Regions from separate parts of the Homo sapiens genome. Here region 2 is linked to region 1. A link means that fine-mapping ties the variant in region 1 to the expression of a gene that starts in the linked region. Tissue or cell type: breast. Region 1 holds a variant in brackets; the other region holds the start of a gene. All regions are shown on one strand. Distances are between the middles of the regions. Region 1 overlaps LOC105369896 (a long non-coding RNA gene). Region 2 holds the start of LINC02823 (long intergenic non-protein coding RNA 2823).

Evidence for each region.
Region 2: it holds the start of LINC02823, and the variant in region 1 is fine-mapped to the expression of LINC02823 in breast (GTEx, PIP above 0.99).

What each region holds. Positions count from the first base shown.
Region 1 is chr12:91,299,725-91,309,802 of GRCh38, forward strand. All of the region lies in intron 8 of LOC105369896 (a long non-coding RNA gene), which reads right to left. It overlaps LOC107984544 (a long non-coding RNA gene), which reads left to right and starts at 9,663. Exons shown (of 3, transcript XR_001749252.2): 1 at 9,663-9,750. The variant T/G (reference allele first, on the strand shown) is at 5,498.
Region 2 is chr12:91,321,333-91,331,410 of GRCh38, forward strand. It overlaps LINC02823 (long intergenic non-protein coding RNA 2823), which reads left to right and starts at 5,594. Exons shown (of 4, transcript NR_183611.1): 1 at 5,594-5,888. The region is part of intron 8 of LOC105369896 (a long non-coding RNA gene); the gene reads right to left.

The DNA.
Region 1 (10,078 bases):
GCAAATAAACTAGAAAATCCAGAAGAAATGAATAAATTTCTGGACACATACAGCCTCCCAAGACTGAACCAGGAAGGAATTGAATCCCTGAATAGACCAATAACAAGTTCTGAAATTGAGACAGTAATAAGTAGACTGACAACCAAAAACAGCCCTGGACCAGATAGATTTACAGCTCTATTCTATCAGAAGTACAACTATTCCAAATAATTAAAAAGAAGGGACTCTTCCCTACTCATTTTATGAGGCCAGCATCATTCTGATACCAAAACCTCGCAGAGAAACAACAACAAAAAACTTCAGGCCAATATTCCTGATTAACATTAATCCAAAAATCCTCAATAAAATACTGACAAACTGAATCCAGCTAATCCAGGACAATCAAATTGGCTTCATCCCTGAGATGCCAGGCTGGTTCACATACACAAATAAATAAACATAATACATCACATAAACAGAACTAAAGAAAAAAAACAAATGATTATCTCAATAGATGCAGAAAAGACCTTCAATAAAATTTAACTTCATTTCATGTTAAAAACTCTCAAAAACTAGGAACTGAAGAAGCATACCTCAAAATAATAAGAGACATTTATGACAAACCCACAGTCAATATCATTCTGAATGAGCAAAAGCTGGAAGCATTCCCCTTGAAATCTGGCACAAGACAAGGATGCCCTCTCTCACCACTCCTGTTCAACATAGTTTTCAAAGTTCCAGCTAGGGCAATCAGGCAAGATAAAGAAATAAAGCATATTCAAGTAGGAAAAGACAAATTCAAATTATCATTTTTTGCAGATGACATGATCCTATATCTAGAAAACTCCATCATCTCAGCTTAAAAGATTCTTAAGCTAATAAGCAACTTCAGCGAAGTGTCAGGATACAAAATCAATGTGCAAAAATCAGAAGCATTGCTATACACAAACAATAGAGAAGCAGAGAGTCAAATCATGAATCAACTCCCATTCACAATTGCTACAAAGAGAATAAATTAGCTATGAATACATCTAACAAGGAAAGTGAAGGACCACTTCAAGGAGAACTACAAACCACTGTCAAGGAAATCAGAGAGAACACAAAGAAATGAAAATAATATTCCATAGTCATGGATAGGAAGAATAGATATCATGAAATGACCATACCACCCGAAGTAATTTATAGATTCAGTGCTATTCCCATTAAATTACAATTGACATTCTTCACAGAATTAGAAAAAAAAACTATTTTACAATTCATATGGAACTACAAAGGAGTTCATATAATCAAGACAATCCTAACCAAAAAGAACAAAGCTGGAAGCATCACACTACCTTACTTCAAAATATACTAGAAGACTACAGTAACCAAACAGCATAGTACTGGTACAAAAACAGACACATAAACCAATGGAACAGAATAGAAAACTCAGAAATAATACTGCTTATCTGCAACCATCTGATCTTCAACAAACCTGAAGAAAACAAGCAATGGGGAAAGGAATCTCTGTTTAATAAATGGTTCTGGGAGGATTGGCTAGCCATATGCGGTAAATTGAAACTGGCCCCCTTCCTTACACTTATACAAAAATTAACTCAAGATAGATTAAAGACTTAAATGTAAAACCCAAAACTATAAAAACCCTAAAAGAAAATCTAGGTAATACCACTCTGGACATAGGCACAGGCAAAAATTTCATGACGAATATGCCAAAAGCAATTGCAACTAAAGCAAAAATTGACAAATGGTATCTAATTAAATTAAAGAGCTTCTGCACAGCAAAAGAAACTATCGTCAGAGTGAACAGACAACCTACAGAGTAGGAGAAAATTTTTGCAATCTACCTATCTGACAAAGATCTAATATTCAGAATCTACGAAGAATTTAAACAAATTACAAGAAAAAAAACTCCATTAAAAAGTGGGCAAAGGGCATAAACAGATACTTCTCAGAAGAAGACATTCATGTGGTCAGCAAACATATGAAAAAAAACCAACATAACTGATCATTAGAGAAACAGAAATCAAAACCACAATGAGATACTCTCACGCCAGTCAGAATGGCAAATAAAAAAACAAGAAACAACAGATGCTGGAGAGGTGGTGGAGAAATAGGAACACTTTTACATTATTGGTGGGAATGTAAATTGGCTCAACCATTGTGGAAGACAGTGTGGCAATCCTCAAAGATCTAGAACCAGAAATACCATTTGACCTAGCAATCCCATTTCTGGATATATACCCAAAGGAATATATTCATTCTATTATAAAGATACATGCACGGATATGTTAAATTCAACACTATTCAAAATAGCAAAGATATGAAATCGACCCAAAAGCCCATCAACGATAGATTGGATAAACAAAATATGGTACATATATGCCATGGAATACTATGTAGCCATAAAAAGAAATGAGATCATGTCCTTTGCAGGGACATAGATGGAGCAAGAAGCCATTATTCTCAGAAAACTAATGCAAGAACAGAAAACTAAACACATGTTCTCACTTATAAGTGGGAACTGAACAATGAGAACATATGGACACGGGGAGGGGAACAACACACACTGGGGCCTGTCACGTGTGGTTGGGGAAGGAGAGCATTAAGAAAAATAGCTAATGCATGCTGGGCTTAATTGCTGGGTGATGGGTTGATAGGTGCAGCAACCCACCATGGCACACATTTATCTATGTAACAAACCTGCACATCCTCCACAAGTACCCCAGAACTTTAAAATAAAATAAAATAAAATAAAATAAAAACTTTTAACACTGCTTTATTGTTCTGGTATGTTGTATCTTTGCTTTCATTAGTTTCGACTAATTTATTGATTTCTGCCTTAATGTCATGGTTTACCCAAAAGTCATTCAGGAGCAGATTGTGTAATTTTCATTTAATTGTATGGTTTTGAGAGAGATATTTGGTATTAACTTCTCTTTTTATTGCACTGTGTTCCAAGAGGATGGTTCATATGATTTCAGGGTTTTCTTTTTTAAATTTGTTAAGAATTGCTTTCTTGCTGAGTGTGCAGTCAATTTTAGAATATGTGCCATGTGCAATTGAGAAGAATGTATATTCTGTTTTTGTTGAGTCAAATGTTCTGTACATGTCTGTTAGCTCCATTTGGTCAACTGTTGTGTTTAGGTTCCATATATCTTTGTTAGTATTCTGCCTCAATGATCTGTCCAATACTGTCAGTTGGGTATTAAAGTCTCCCATAATTATTGTGTGGTTATATAAGTCTCTTTGTAGGTATGTAAGAATGTGTTTTATGAATCTGGGTGCTCAGTGTTGGGTGCATATATATTTAGAATAGTTCAGTCTTCTTTTTGAGTTGAACCATCCCCAAGACAGGTAGTCATCAGAGTCTCCAAGACCAATGTGAAAGAAAAAATATTAAAGACAAGTAAGCAGAAGGAGAAGTTCACCTACAAAGGGAACTCCAGCAGGCTAACAGTGGACCTTTCAATAGAAACTCTAAAAGTCAGAAGAGATTGGGGGCCTATGTTCAGCATCCTTAAAGAAAAAAATTCCAACTGAAAATTTTATATCTGGCTAAACTAAGCTTCATAAGCTAAGGAGAAATAAAATCTTTTTCAGACAAGGAAACACTAAGGGAATTCAATACCACTAGACCTGCCTTACAAGAGGTCATTTCCATACTAAACACAGAAATGAAAGACTGGTACCTGCCACCACAAAAACACACTTAAATACATAGACTATTGAAACTAGAAAGAAAATATACAATCAAGTCTACATAATAACCAGCTAACAACACAATAAAAGGATCAAATTCACACATACTCATGTTAACCTTTAATGTAAATAGGTTAAACATCCCACTTAAAAGGCACAGAGTGGCAAGTTGGATAAAGAAGCAAGGCCCCACTGTATGCTGTCTTCAAGAGAACCATCTTACATGCAAGGACATCCATAGGCTTAAAGTAAAGGGATAGAGAAAGATCTATCAGACAAATGGAAAGCAAAAAAGAGCAGGGGTTTCTGTTCTTATTTGAGACAAAACCAACTGTAAACCAACAATGATCAAAATTACAAAGAAAGGCATAAAATAATATTATTTTAAATTACAGGCTTTTGAAGTTGCAATGGTCCCAAAGTATCCCAAGGTTCAAGCACAGATTCCTTCTATGACTCTCCTGATGCAACAAGGATTGGTCAAGCTAGTGAAATTCCACCTAAAATGCTCAATCCAACCTGTTGCCCAAATGAATCTGCCTCCTACCATTCCTCTGCAGTCAATGATTTGAAGAGTCCTAGAGAAAAACGCTCAATCTGAACCCTACTTTCTTCCTTTTCTCAATGATCACTAGCTTGCTTTGGCTATTTTTATGTTTCTTCTGAATAATACAGTAGACTTCTCTCCAGACTTTTTATCTGTAGTTTTCCTCATAACACTAACCCTTCCAACACATTCTGCCAAAGTTATTTTTTCAAATACAAGAATCCAAGCTTCTCACTTTTCTCTTTAAATAATTTTGATGTTTCCTTAACAACTACAAGAAAAAGGCTAAAGATCTTAGTGTTATAAAATAATAATGTTAGGAAAGTCTCTCCAAATGCATTTCTCTCTATCATTCTGATCTTCTAACCAACATTCTGCCAGCATTGCTCTCCCCCAAAAAGAGATGCCTTCCTCATACTCTTTTGCATTTGAATATGCTGTTTCTTTTGTGGCAAAGCCTTTCTAATTCTGTTCTGTTTGGTGAATCCTAACTCATCCTTTAAGACGCCACTCAAGTGTCACAAGCTCTGAAAAGTCCTTTAGGCAATAGCTGTTCTTCATTTTTGTCTCCACAGTACTGTTCAGAATTCTATTTAGCATGTATCAGATTGCATTTTACCCATCTCACTACATACCTGACTTCCCCCTCAAGTTATGAATTCCTCCAGGATAGGGATGATAATCATACACCCACAATGTCAGGTTCATTTTCTGGCATGGAGGAGTTCAGTGTGCCCTTATTCTAGGACTGCAAGAACAACTGAATAAATGGAGTTCTTCCACAGAAATAAGGAGTCTTCACATTCCTGAAAACCTCTTGTTAAAACTTGATTAAGTAAGATCAGAAAATAAATCATGGAGATGCCTTTTTACTTTGTTTAAAGAAGATATACCATGAAATTCTGTGGAAATTCAGTGAAAAATGACATTCAATTTCCCTCCTTTCAATTGTGGGCTAAATAGTATTGCCAATACTGTCTACTCTTAAAAACTGAAAATCTGTTTTTCAGACTGCAAAATATCTCAAATTCTTGACTCCTTCTACTGTTACTAAATCAAATTGCATTTTGTTTTCCACTTAAATTTTCATTTTACTCCAGGAGTTTTTAGAGAAGCCACTTGTATTAGTGAATTTGTGTTCAAAGTGCAAATTCTGCTGCCCAGTTTGTTATATCATCCCCTCCTATAGCTGTGATTTATCTATTACATTCATGGTGTATCTTCTAGATAATTAACATTTATAGGTAGTAGAGTAGAGTATATATCTATATA[T/G]AGAGAGAGAAGGAGAGATATATTTGAATCTTATCTCATATGTATAAATTCCAGGTGAACGACCTGATGCTTAGAAAGTCTAAGCCACTTATTAGGGTGGACAACCCTCCTGGTTTGCCTGAAATAAAAAGAGTTTCATAGATGTAGGACTTTCACTTTTAAAACCAAAAAAATCCCAAGGAAATCCAGCAGAGTAGGTCACTCTATTACTTATTTAAGTTCACACAATAAGTAGCAGATACAAAGGCCAAATTGAGTTCTACATATGCCCCAAATTCTATATTTATTCCACATGCTGCCACCTTGATTTTTATTTTGCCCGTAACATTAATTTCCACATTGTTCATCATAAGATACAAAGTTTTTAAGAGCAATACACAAATGGAAGAGTCTAGTGAAATATTTTAACAATATTTTAAATTATGAATTAGTAGCACAGTTTGCTTTCAGCTGTAGATGTCATCTTCCATTTACATGCCACAATTACTAGCTAATATTTTGCAAATCACTATGTTATAAAACTTAGAAAGTCAAAAAATAACAGATGCTGACAAGATTGTGGAGAAAAAAAGAACACTTATACACTGTTAGTGGGAGTGTAAATTAGTTCAGCCATTGTGGATCACGGGGTGGCAATTCCTTAAAGATCTAAAGACAGAAATACCATTTAACCCAGCAATCCCATTACTGGGATTTATGTACCCAAAAGAATATCAATAATTCTATTATAAAGACACATGCATGCACATATTCATTGATGCACTATTCAAGAGAACCAAGACATGGAATCAACCTAAATACCCATCACTGATAGACTGGATTAACAAAATGTAGTACATATACACCATGGAACACTATGCAGCCATGAAAAAGAATGAGGCCATGTCCTTTGCAGGGACATGGATGGAGCTGGAGGCCAATTATCCTTAGCAAACTAACACAGGAATAGAAAACCTAATACCACATGTTCTCACTTATATATGGGAGCTAAATAATGAGAATGCATGGACACAGGGAGGGAACAACACACACTGGGGTCTACCAGACCCCAGGGAGGTAGGGGGAGAGAAAGGATCAGGAAAAATAACTAATGGGTACTAGGCTTAATGCCTGGGTGATGGAATAATCTGTATAACAAACCTCCATGACACAACTTTACGTACATAACAAACCTACACATGTACTCTGAACTTAAAATAAAAGTTTTTAAAAAATAAAAAGAAATTTATCTAGTTACTAAGAGACTAGTTGTTAGGACTCTCAAATTAGACTATCACTCCCCTATGAAAATAAGTAGTTCTTAATTCTTGTGAACCTTCATAAAGTTTTTAATGTCCCTCAATGGGCTTCCATTTTTTCCCCAAACCCACCCCTCCAATTTCAATTTTAGAAATATTTAAGACATATGGAGGAAGGGGGGAAAATTATTGTACTTTCACTGATTTGAAGAGAAAGTGAACAAGTTAATGTTTGGGTTGTGGGACAGAGTGTCAAGACAAACTGGATTAAGAGATGATAAAGGTTGAAAGATGATGTCATGTATCACGGAATTATTCTAGTAATATTCTCCAAAAGATATCTGGACTTATGTATTTTCTCTTGTGAATGTTTTTCACCAAGCTCTATGCATTTATAAAGAAATATGGTACTCTTTCTTGCATATGATTTATAAATCTTCAATTTTTTATTACTTTCTCTCAAATTATACTTGATAAAATGCTACTGATGTGACTATATTTCCAATTAGTTTTTGACAATAATGCAGAATTCAAGTGTCCTAATATTTAAAAATTAACATGAATGAAAAAATTGGTAAAGGATTATACATTCATTTAACAAACAACAGCATAGTAATGAAACACATTTTAAACCAAGGGTTAAGGACCTTGCATATGTGTTTTTATTGTACTTGTGATTATCTAGGTGACTCTAAGAAAATCACATCATAATTTTCTCTTTTCAGTTTTTCTGTCAGCAAAATGGGAAATAAAATAATTGCCTTACTTTGTCCATAGGCATGGGAAGAGATTCAGCTACATGATCACAATGCATACTAGGAAGGAGAGTATTTGCTAAATTTGAATGAGGAGAAGAAACATAGAAACCACAATACTTCATGTATAGGTATTTCAAAAGAAACAGCTATACATGAATTCCAAGAGAAATTGAAAGACTTTGAGGCAACACAATTTGGGCACAGATCACAAAACACTTGAACTCACTGAGGTGATTTTCATGTATCCTCCAGTTTGCATATATGTAGTTTGCCAGTGCCTCTTACACTTTACTGTGTAAAAATATTACCTAGAGATCGTATTAAAATGCAGATTATAATTCAGAAAGTCTGCAGTTCAACTTGACTGTGTGCATTTTTAAAAGCACTAGAGCAATGTTAATAACGCAAATAAAGGAATCACACTTTGAATAGCAATGTAGAAGGCTACTTGTTTCCACAGTATTAGAGGGATGATGAAAATAAACAGCCCTATGACATAGTCCAGAGTCACTGTGACATACTAGACATTACAACAAGGGACTGGTTTGAAATTTGGATAGGAGGTGTCCTATTCCATTCGGCTTGCTATTGTATATAGAACACAAGGGCAACTTTTTATAAAGGCCATAAACTAAGCAGTTTATAAATAATAGAAATGTATTTCTCATAGATTTGGGGGCTATGAATTCCAAGACTGAGGTGCCAGCAGATTCAGCATGTGACTAGGGCCCACTTTCTGGTTCACAGATGGTGGCTTCTAGCTGTTTCTTCAAATGATGGAAGGGAGGGGTAAGGGGAGGTCTCTCTGGCACCTCTTTTGTAAGACACTAATCCCATTCATGAGGCCTCTGTACCTATGACCTAATCACCTCCCAAAGGCCTCAATTTCTAATCACATCACCTTGAGGGTTAGGATTGCAACATATGCATTTTAGGGGACCACAATATGTATACCATAGCAGAGGTATATTAATTTGAGGTAGTAACATGACAAGGGAGTTCCCCACAAAAAAAAAAAAATCTGGTAAGAGATAGCCAAGTACAGATTGGGAAAAGCTTCAGATAATTTGTAATTGAAAAAAAGTCCAGGGTATGTAGAACACAGGGGCAACTTTCTAAATGAAAACACCAAGGCAGAGAGTGTAATGCACAAAATTTGTTTGGAGAAGAACAAAGAATAAAGAAGGTGAGCAAACTTCTCAATAATAAATCAAAATGAGTAAAGACAGATGCAGCTGGATCAGTTTCAAGGGCTCAGAATGAAAGGGGAACTTTAAAAACTGAATGGTAACATCTGTACGATGCAAAGAAGACCCAAAAACTATTAAAAGGAAGGGAGACAGGATGAAAAGCTTTCTCAAGGGAGAAGTAAAATTAAGACATTTTCTGGTGGTGGCAAGACAAAAAGTAGAAGGAAAACAGTCATTATGGAGGTTGCAAGTTATCTCTTTGGAAATGGGAACCCTTGCTCAGTAGAGCAGACAGAATAGGAAAGTTCATCAGATTTCAGTGGGAAAGAAAGAAGAAATGGGGGGAGTTATCTAGAGAAGTAATTAAAATAAAGGCTATAGAAAATAAGTGGATGCCTGTTGTGTTTTGAACTAAAGTGACTGGAGAAATCAATGTAGAAGGTGAGGAGGAACAGATCCTGAGTCAAAGGAGAAATGTAGAAAGAGAAGAAAAGTGTCAAAAGAGAAAGAGAAATAGCACTTAAAGGGCGTCTTTATAAATTGTCACAATGTTGATAATTTTTTTTATGATTCACTATGAAGAAGAAAAAAGATGACATCCATTCAAGTACTGACAAATTCTAACTAACTATGAAAGACTAAAGAGAAGGATTGAATTACAAGAATAAATTATTTTTTAAAGTTGGAAGTAGCGACATAAGTAATGAACATAGTAAATTAAAGTGGCAGGGTAAACAGTGAAGACCAATGAACAACCGGTTGGAAAGTATCATATAGAGAACAGAGCTAAGGACAAAGAGGATGCAGATGTAGAAATAAGAACTCCATTCATCTGGGGAAAGATTAAAAGTGTCCACTTCTCTATGGCACACCCAGTTTGGCTTCATCATTTCTTTAAGACCTTTTTTTTTTTTTTCATCATTGCCAACAGAATACTAACATTTTTCTCTTTACTCCTTTTCCTCCAGGTCCTCATAGATAATTTATTGAGCAATCTGATAACTAAATTTGAGTTATGAAACTAATGCTTAAGAGTATTTTCTATTTCATTTCTTCCAGATATGTTGGTAAGACCCGTTCATATTTGTTTCCAAGTCATAAAGACCAAATCATGTTTACAGGGTCATAAAGGAGATAACTTCATTTTGAGAATATTTTCAGTTGTGTGTACTCTCTGAAAAGAAGATTAATTCTATGTGATAGGGACCAGTGTAATTTTTAAACACTAATTGGGCTTGGTCCATATCCAATTCTGCCATTACTCAATGTTCTCAAATTTATTTCAGAGTTTATCAGAGGAAGGGAAAGGAAATTATCCAAAAGCAAATGACTATTGGAATCATTACTGATTATGTTGTATCTCATTAAAGAAACGTTTGAGTAATGCAGAAAAGT
Region 2 (10,078 bases), 22 kb after region 1:
CATAATATATATACACATATATATGCATATATGTATATGGATCTTAAACATAAATGAATTATCTTTCTCTATAGATATATGGTATTGCTTTCTATATAGAAAGAGCATTCATTTGTGTTTAAGTTCTGACAACCCCTAAGATTTCAAAGTATTTTCAATGTATTGATGGAACATCAGGAAGCACAGATCAGTTCAACCCAGGAGCGTTTTACCACTTAGTTTAGAGCTCCGAAGAGAAGTCTGGGTAAAAAACACAAATATAATTCTGTCTTTATTCAAGAAAATTCTAAAAATTGAACTTACAAAAAAGAGAATGTCGATATATATACAAGGCACGACTTATTCGATAGTTCCTTGGAAGATGTTGGAAAAAATTAGAAAGTTGGCATAAACCAATCTCTACCATGGGGTTGGTAATAGAGAGATTAGAAAGTGCATTGGACATATTGGACTTGAAGTTAAAAACATGTATTCCAGTTTGAAGATATGTTTTTTATCTTCTGTATTTTTATTGTTGTTGTTTGTTTTGTTTTCGGGAGACAGAGTCTCACCCTATCCCCCAGGCTGGAGTGCAGTGGCGCAATCACGGCTCACTGCAATCTCCCCCTCCCAGGTTCAAGCAATTCTCATGCCTCAGCCTCCTGAGTAGCTGGGCTTACAGGCGCCCACCACCATGCCTGGGTAATCTTTATATTTTTAGTAGGGTTTCGCCATGTTGGCCAGGCTGGTCTCGAACTCCTGACCTAAGGTGATCCTCCCACCTCCCAAAGTGCTGGGATTACAGGCATGAGCCACTGTACCCAGCTATCTTCTGTATTATTTTGGGCAAGTCACTTCACCCCTCAGAATAAACTTCCATCTCATCATATACACAGTTAAGCTAATAATACTTGCTTTTGCTACTTCAAATGGTCTGAGGAGATCATTCCTATCTCGGTTGAACTCTGGAGATGTGTTTGCTCCTGCCTGGTTTATTATTATATAGCATCTTCTGTGTCTTCCTTTTTAGTTGCCTGGTACAGTGCCTGTTGTACAGTACACATTTAACAGACACTGCAAAATTTGTATAACTGTATAATTGTATAACACACACAAGAGGAAATAAATAGAGTACTCAAAAAGATTTGTTGTGAACTCTAAAAAGTGAAAAGTATTAGAGAAGTCCAAAGTAGAGAAGAAACAGAGTGGGAGAAGGCATAAGAAGACATTAACCTGATAATTTTCCATGGCTGGTTGTAAATTTTCTTATGAACCCAAACAAATTATGAAACAAATATTTTCAGCTATTACACACTGGATTAGCCTATCACACTATGTAACTGACCTTGTGTTATACTCTCTTTATACTCTCTACAATTAATGATCAATCTATAACACTGCTGTCCAAGAGAGCTTTCAGCAATGATGGGAAGTTCTACAAGCATATCTTGGAGATATTGTAATTTTCATTTTAAAGCACATATTACAGGAAAGTGAGATGCACAATTTTTTCAGTTTTCCAGTGCATATACAAGTTATTTGCAAACTATATTACAGTCTATTAAGTGTGAAGTTGCACTATGTCTAAAAAATCTACATATATTAATTTTAAAATACTGTATTGCTTAAAAATGATAATCATCTGAGCCTTCAGCGAATCATAATCTATTTGCCAGTGGAGGATCTTGTGTCAGTGTCGATGGCTGCTAATCAATCAGGGTGGGGTTGCTGAAGGTTGACATGCCTGTGGAAATTTCTTAAAATGAGACAGCAATGAAGTTTGCCCCATTGATTGACTCTTCGTGTCCCAAAAGATTTATCTAGCATGTGATGCAGTTTGGCAGCATTTTACCCACAGTGGAACTATTTCAAAACTGGAGTCAATATTCTCAAACCCTGCTGCTGCTTTATCAATTAAGTTTATGCAATATTCTAAGTCCTCTGTTCAACAACATTCATAGCAACCTCACCAGGAGTAGATTCCATCTCAAGAAACCACTTTCTTTGAACATCTACAAAAAGTAACTTCTCATTTGTTAGTTTTATTATGAGATTGCAGCAATTCAGTCACATCTTCAGGCTCTACTTCTAATCCTAATCTCTAGTTAACTTCCTCCAGTGAAATCTTGCACTTCTCAAAGTCATCTATGACGGATGGATGAATAAACTCCTGTTAATCTTGACATTTTGAATTATGAATGTTATGGATGGTATCTAGAATGATAAGTCCTTTCCAGAAGGTTTTCAATTTATTTTTCCCAGATCCATCAGAGGAATCAGTTAATGGCATTGATGGCCTTACAAAATGTGTTTCTTAAATGACAAGACTTGAAAATCAAAATTACTCCTTGATCCATAAGCTGCAGAATGAATGTTGTGTTAGCAGGAATAAAAACAACATCAATCTCCTTGTACATCTTCAACAGAGCTCTTGAGTAACTAGGTGCATTGTCAATGAACGGTAATATTTTTAAATGAATCTTTTTTACTGAGCAATAGATCTCAAAAGTGGGATTAAATATTCAGTAAACCATGCTGTAAACAGGTGTACTGCCATCCAGGCTGTGTTGTTGCATTTACAGAACACAGGCAGAGCCAATTTAACATAATTCTTAAGGGCCCAAAGATTTTTGGAATGGCAAATTAGCATTGGCTTCAAATTAAAATCACAAGATGCACTAACCCCTAACAAGAGAGTAAGCCTGTCCCTCGTAGATTTGAACCAGGCATTGACTTCTCCTCTCTTGGTATGCAAGTCCTATACAGCATTTCTTCCAATAGAAGACATTCATCTTCATTGAGAATCTGTTGTTTAACGTAGTCACCTTCATGGATTATTTTAGCTTGATCTTCTGGATAACTTGCTTTGGCACCGTGGCTTCACTTTGTACTTTTATGTTATGGAGATGGTTGCTTTCCTTAAGCCTCATGAACCAACCTCTGCTAGCCTCAAACTTTTCTTCTGCAACTTCCTTACCTCTCTCAGCCTTCATAGAATTGAAGAGAGTTTGGGCCTTGCTCTAGATTAGGCTTTTGTCTAAGGGAATGATGTGGCTGGTTTAATCTTCTATCCAGACCACTAAAATCTTTCCCATACTAGCAATAAGGCTGTTTCACTTTCTCGTATTTCTGTGTTCACTGGAGTAGCACCTTTTTTTTTTCTTCTAGCTTCTTTTTCTTTTTTTTATTTTATTATTATTATACTTTAAGTTTTAGGGTACATGTGCACAATGTGCAGGTTAGTTACATATGTATACATGTGTGTGTAGCACTTTTATTGATTGATGGATTGTTTCTTTTTGAGACAGAGTCTCACTCTGTCCCCAAGGCTGGAGTGCAATGGCGCAATCTCGACTCACTGCAACATCCGCCTCTCAGGTTCAAGCAATTCTCCTGCTTCAGTCTCCCAAGTAACTAGGATTGCAGGTGCACGCTGCCACACCCAGCTAATTTTTTTGTATTTTAGTAGAGGTGGGGTTTCAGCATTTTGCCCAGGCTGGTCTTGAACTTCTGAGCTCAGCAATCCACCCACCTCGGCCTCCCAAAGTGCTAGAATTACAGGGGTGAGCCACCACACCTGACCTGGAGTAGCACTTTTAATCTTCTTTAAGAACTTTTCTTTTGCATTCACAATTGGGCTAACTATTCGGCACAAGAGGCCTAGCTTTCAGCCTGTCTTGGCTTTCAACATGCCCTCCTCACTAAGCTTAATCATTTCTAGCTCTTGATTAAAAGTGAGAGACATGTGACTCTTCCTTTCACTTGATCATTTTAGAGGCCATTTTAGAGTTATTAGTTGGCCTAATTTCAATATTGTTGTGTCTCAGAAAATGGGGGGCCCAAGGAGAGGGAGATAAATTAAGGAGAGGAAGAAAGATGAAGGAAGGGTCAGTTGGTGGAGCTATCGTAACACACACAATATTTACTATTAAGTTCACTGTTTTATATGAGTGTGGTTCATGGCACTCCAAAATAATTACAACAGTAACATCAAAGATCACTGATCACAGTTCACCATAACAGAAATAACAAGTCTGAAATATTGTGAGAATCACCAAAATGGGACACAGAGACACGAAGTGAGCACATGTTGTTGGAAAATGGCACCAATAGACTTGCTCCATGCAGAGTTGCCACAAACTTTCAATTTGTGAAACATGCGATATCTGCAAAGCACAATAAAGTGAAGTACAATTATGCCTGTATATGTGCCCTGTTTAAATAGCAGCCACTAGCTACATGCAACTGCTAAGCACTTGAAATACGGCTAGTGCAATGGATGAACTAAATTTTTCATTTCATTTCATTTAAATTAGTTTAAAATTCAATGAAATACTCAAGTGGCCAATGGCTACTGCATTGGACAGCACAGATCTACAACTTAATGGCTAATGAATGACCATATTCATCTGTGGAGCAGAGGAGAGTGTCTAAAACAGCATAGTGACCAAAATAATACAAGCCTAAATAAAAAAGAATCATGATTTAAAAGACTACAATTTTCAAAACTATTAAGTCTTGCTTTCTGCAACTTGTGACTTAACACACCTCTTTGACAGATTCTTGTATTATTTCACCAGAAACAGAACAGAATTCAGTTGTGTTTCACTAAATACATGGCTTCATCTTTTGGGACTTGGTTTCCTCATCTGTAAAGTGAAGTGGTTGGACTTCGTTAGATCATATTTAAATTTTTCTTTCAGCTACAGAGTTTGGAAGCACATTTAAGTGAATTGCTGGGAAAAACTGTGTGTTTGATTTTAGGTCTCATCTGTGAATTCCTGTCTCATCATCAGAATCTCTCCAACATGTTTTCCTTTCCCTCTGTACTTCTGACTCCCTCTTATCTGCCCATAGTTCAAAAGATTTCTCCTGTCTGATAGATTTATCCTTCTGCATTTGTGCTGTCAAAGAGCTTTGTTTAGACAGAGTCCAGACATACTTGTGTGTTGCTTATGAATTCTAATTAAGAAGGACAACTCCACATGAGTCAAGGTTATCTTTAAAAAAATAGAACTTTAGTCTAAGATCAGAAAGGAAGAAAAACATTATAAAATAAACTTGGCAAAAAGAACTCCAAAGTTTAAACCAAACTAAGATGGGAAGCATAGGAAGCATGTTTTTCTTTCACAAAATCAGATTAATTCTTATTTGAAGGGTTCTTTGAGCATAAAGAAACTGCCATTGCAGAAATGCAGATTTCTGATGTGGCCACCTTGAGTTTGTTGAAGAAAAACAATTCTGAAAATTCACTCAGGTCCCTCTGGCTCCCCAGGTTCTTTGCACCCTGATAAAGAAAAAGATTACACATGCGCCACCTTTTGGAAAAAATGGGAATAGCAGCAAAGAGGTCAGATTCAAAGACCATTAGCTCTATTTCACCCTCAAAGGGAAAAACAAAAAGCCAAATATCATTTATTTTTATTATAATATTTAAAAGTTATATCCCCCAGAGGTTTATTAATCATGTGACATAGAACTATTAGTAAAGTCTGAATCAAAACTTGGATTTGGTTTTTCTCATTTTCAAAATGGTAATAAGTTGATTTTGCTTTAAAACAGTAAGTCTGAAATAACCACAAAATAGCAAAACACTGTCTCAAATCCTAATGTCACAGTTTTCATTTATCCTTGGTCATGGATATAGATCTACGGGGAAAATTAATTGTTTCTATTTATTCTATCCTAGTTACAATAATCCTTAACTTTAAGTATTGTACCTCCCTTTTTCTTAGTACTTAGAGTAGAAAACCAGAGAAGCAAATCCATTTATTTTACTAGAAAGAAAATTCTTACTTGTTTTATCTAGAACCATGAAAAAGAAGTGGTATCACAAATCTGCTTAGTTTTTTTGGACTTGAAGCGTAGAGTCGAAGGCTTTTGAGATTCCACAATGCTTGGGAGAAAATGTAAGTAAAATTACTGGTTACTATAGGTAAATACCTTTTACACATGTTAGGCATTAAGGCGTGCCCTCCAAAGTTATAATGACCACTGAGCAAAATATTCTGCAACTAAACAGTAGACAATGCTGACGTATAAAATGCTTCCAGGATGGAGAGGGGAGACAGCTGAATTTCATTTTAAACAGTACTGACATATCCACAAATCTGACTTAGAGATAGTTCTCACTAGACTTGCATATTGAAGTCACAATCATAAAACAATGCTCTTCATTTATTGTCTTTAAATTCTCATCTCTGTCTGAAGACCCTTTCAAACATAATAGAATAACAAAGCATAGAGGCAAATCTGAAAAATGACTGATAGCTTCTAAGTTTCTGAGTTCATTCTCCCAACATTATTTTGTTTATACAACTGACATGTATAAGAATTAAAGAGTTCTTAAAAATATTCAACTTGAGTCGTAATCCAAATCAGATTTTTCATTATTTCCTAAAAAAAGTGTTACAAAAGCTGCTGTGATTTTAAGTATAAAACGAACGCCACCCTTGTAAATAGCAGCCATAATGTTTTAAAAAATAATTCTCATTGAATATAAATGTACTGTGTTGACTTTTATATCACTCCTTTTCCCACTCTGTAAGTTTTAATGAAATTATTTTTCCTTAAAATAAATACATGAAAGATTGATTACTAAAACAGCATTATGTGTTTTATGTTCTGCCAACAGGGAGATGATAGAGTTGGGTTTAAATTCCTCAGCACGCCCTGCTGTGGTTGTCACTCATAGCTCTCCCTTTCCAAAAACCTCAAAATAGCTTATAATGCCACGTACTATATGTGGAGTAATAATTAGGCTTTCCAGGGTACTTTCTGTTGGACAATCCCTTTGGCACACACAAAAGCCATAAAATCCAGCTCTTCACACAAAGTTCTCCAGCTTTTTTTGAATGCTTTAAAGATCATAACTGTGATATCGCTTGACAACTTGGCATGGTGAAAGCTGACTAATGGGCACTTTTGAGTATGGAGTTTTATGCTTTTTCTTTTCTTCTTTTGGGGACATCTACCAGGATTTGAGAATCAAATTGATAGGATAAACCTACAATGTACAGTCCTTGAACCCTGAAAATTAATTAAAGGCAGACATGTTAAAGGTTTTAAGTTAAAACTGATTTTTGCAAAAGGAATTTGGGTCTTCAAATGAAAAGAAAACATAAAGACCTTCCAAAGAAACTTAACATTTTAAATGAGCTTCCAGAAGCCTGGAGCTCATTCCATAATAATATATTACTTTTCTAATTAGAATCCCTAATTATCTGGTGTATTCCTATGGATGCATAGAACTTTGTAATTTGGCCACTCGCCCACTCCATTTGGGGTTGCTCTTGTGAATTTAAATTGCACCCCGGTCACCACCAGATGCACCTACGACATGTGTCTTCAGAGTCTACCACACTATCAGTATAAAGTAGAGGAATTATCAGAAATGACTAGAGAAAAGAAAGGAGATTTAAATATTTATAGAGTAAAATCAGGTTGGCTTAAACCCAGGTTTTTCCAGTCAAGAAAAGGGGATAGATCTTTTTTCCTTTAGAAACATACAAACACACACAATAAAGCATTTTTATTCCCATAAGCAACTCTAAGACAAGGTCCTTCAGGACTGCCAGTTTATAATGGTGCCCTGCAGAAAATAAGAAAAAAGCTACTCATAATTATTTGTTAAACTCACTTTATCTAACCTGTAACTTCCGCTAATTCCTTGTTTATTTTGATTTATGTTTAATTAAATTTTGTTGTTTGTTTTTTTGAGATGAAGTCTCACTCTGTCGCCCAGGCTGGAGTGCAGTGGCGCAATTTCGGCTCACTGCAACCTCCGCCTCCTGGGTTCCAGCAATTCTCCTGCCTCAGCTTCCCGAGGAGCTGGGATTACAGCATGTGCCACCATGCCCAACTAAGTTTTGTTTTTTTTTTGGTAGAGACAGGGTTTCACCATGTTGGCCAGGCTGGTCTCGAACTCCTGACCTCAGGTGATGCACCTGTCTTGGCCTCCCAAAGTGCTGAGATTACAGGCGTGAGCCACTGCACCTGGCCATGATATATGTTTAATTAAAATTAACACAGGGCATGATAAAAAAACAAAATAAGCATAAATTACTTATTTAACCTATGTACCCATAATGTTCCCAGTTGTTTTCAGCTCAGTTTAAAAATTGGTCTAATTTGTAGCTAATTTTTATGTACTGGCCTGCATATGTTTAAATAGTGGAATAAGCAAACATCTAAACGTGACATTTAAAATCTATTTTGAAATTCCTTGTTCTGCTTTTTAGAAAATGACTGGATATATGTACAAGTGTATATATATACACATATATACATATATACATATATATGACTGCATGTGTGCATGATGTATGTGTATATGTGCATAATTTAGGGTTCTCGTATTTTTCACACTGTGGGCAGGAAGGGTAGGATTTAGACAATCTTGTGGCTGTTACCAGGAAATGTAGCCCTTTTTGATCTTAGTAAAACATTTTACAAATAAATGCATAAAATTAAAAATTATATTATCAAAGGGGAAAATATTAAAATACACAGGTTACTTGTCTTCACATAATTTTACAAAATAGAAAAAATATTTTAATTCTTAAAATTATATAATAAAAAAAACCGGTATAAAATAAGAGAGTTTGAGATTTGAATCTTATTTCTAACATCTTGTGTAATATTCAATATCCAAGAACCTGTGATCTTGGGAAGTTGTAGAGCCCCTGAAGCCCCAGTTTTCTAGTCAGAAACCTTATCGTTACTTTTCAATAAACACACATTCCTTCCTTCCAAAGCTTTGCAAAAAGGCACTTCCTCTAGTAGGTCCTTAGCCATAAACTCCACCCAGCTTAATTAATTATATTTTTCCTAACATACAGTAAATAAATTTAAAGTTCTCAAAAGAGCAAGTCACTTCTAAGATTCTATACAACCAAGGTATTTTATGATAGCAGCTTTCATTCATCCATTCACTCATTCATTCATTCATTCATCATTTAGTTATTTATTCAACAAATGTTCATTAAAGCTTGCGTGTGTGTGAATGAGTGTTGGATTTCTCCGCAAAGGCTGGAGCAAAGTAGAGGATGCCAGCAAGCATACTTGTCCTACTATCTCAATATCTTGTCCAGTTTTCTCTATTCATTTCACAGGACTGCATATGCACTAGGTAGTCAGAGGTGAAGAGGATGATACCCCTATAGCTGTGGGGTGTTTCACTGTTTTATAAGGGACTGAACTCATTTGAAATTGGCAGCTGAAGGAAGTCATTATTCTCAACTCAGAAAAGCCCAGAAACAAGTCCAGGCTGGTAATAAACAAAGCTATCTTCAATGTTCATGCCTCAGAAGTAGATTTTCTCAAAAGACACTGTATCTAATGTTGTATTTGTAGTTTTTTATTTTATTTCATAAAGAGAGCCTCAATATTTATAGCTTCAAGCCATATAAACTGAATTTGCCCCTACCTGTGCTACTTCTTTTTATTTTGTTTTGTTCATTGCACTATATTTTGAGGCCATTACTTTTAGGAACAGTCTTCAAAGTGTACAAACCAGTGGTTCTCAACTATCCTGTTCATAATAGTTGTATGGAGGGATTCTATTAAATGTGAACCCCAAGTTTCCACACTAAGGAGCTTCTGTTTCAGTAGTCTAGTTTGTAGCTTTCAGAATGAATATGTGTGTGTGTGTGTGTGTGTGTGTGTGTGTGTTTGTTTGTTTTATTCCTGTCTTTAGATCATACACTGAATATCAAATACAAAACAAATTTTTTAAAATTTAAGAGAGCTTTAGAATCTATCTGCTATTGTTGTTCTTCATTTTAAGATAAGCTGAAGTTTTTTTTTCTGTTATGTTGGGTGGCTCTCTATTCTGAAATGATGGCAGCTGCAGGGGGTTCGGGATAGGGTAGAAGGCTCAGTTTGGTTAAGCACTTTCTTTCAAAGTGGTTCTGTAAGCAGATATTTGGAAGTATTAATCTTACTCCTTATTGACCTTGCCATTGATATGGCTGGTCATTTAGAATAGTGGATATTAAACTTCAGTTCCAATCCTAAGAGACTACAATAAAAAATGTTGAAGTCATATAGATTGGGCCCAAAATAAAATATAAACAGTCCCCACATCTCCGTGTTGTAG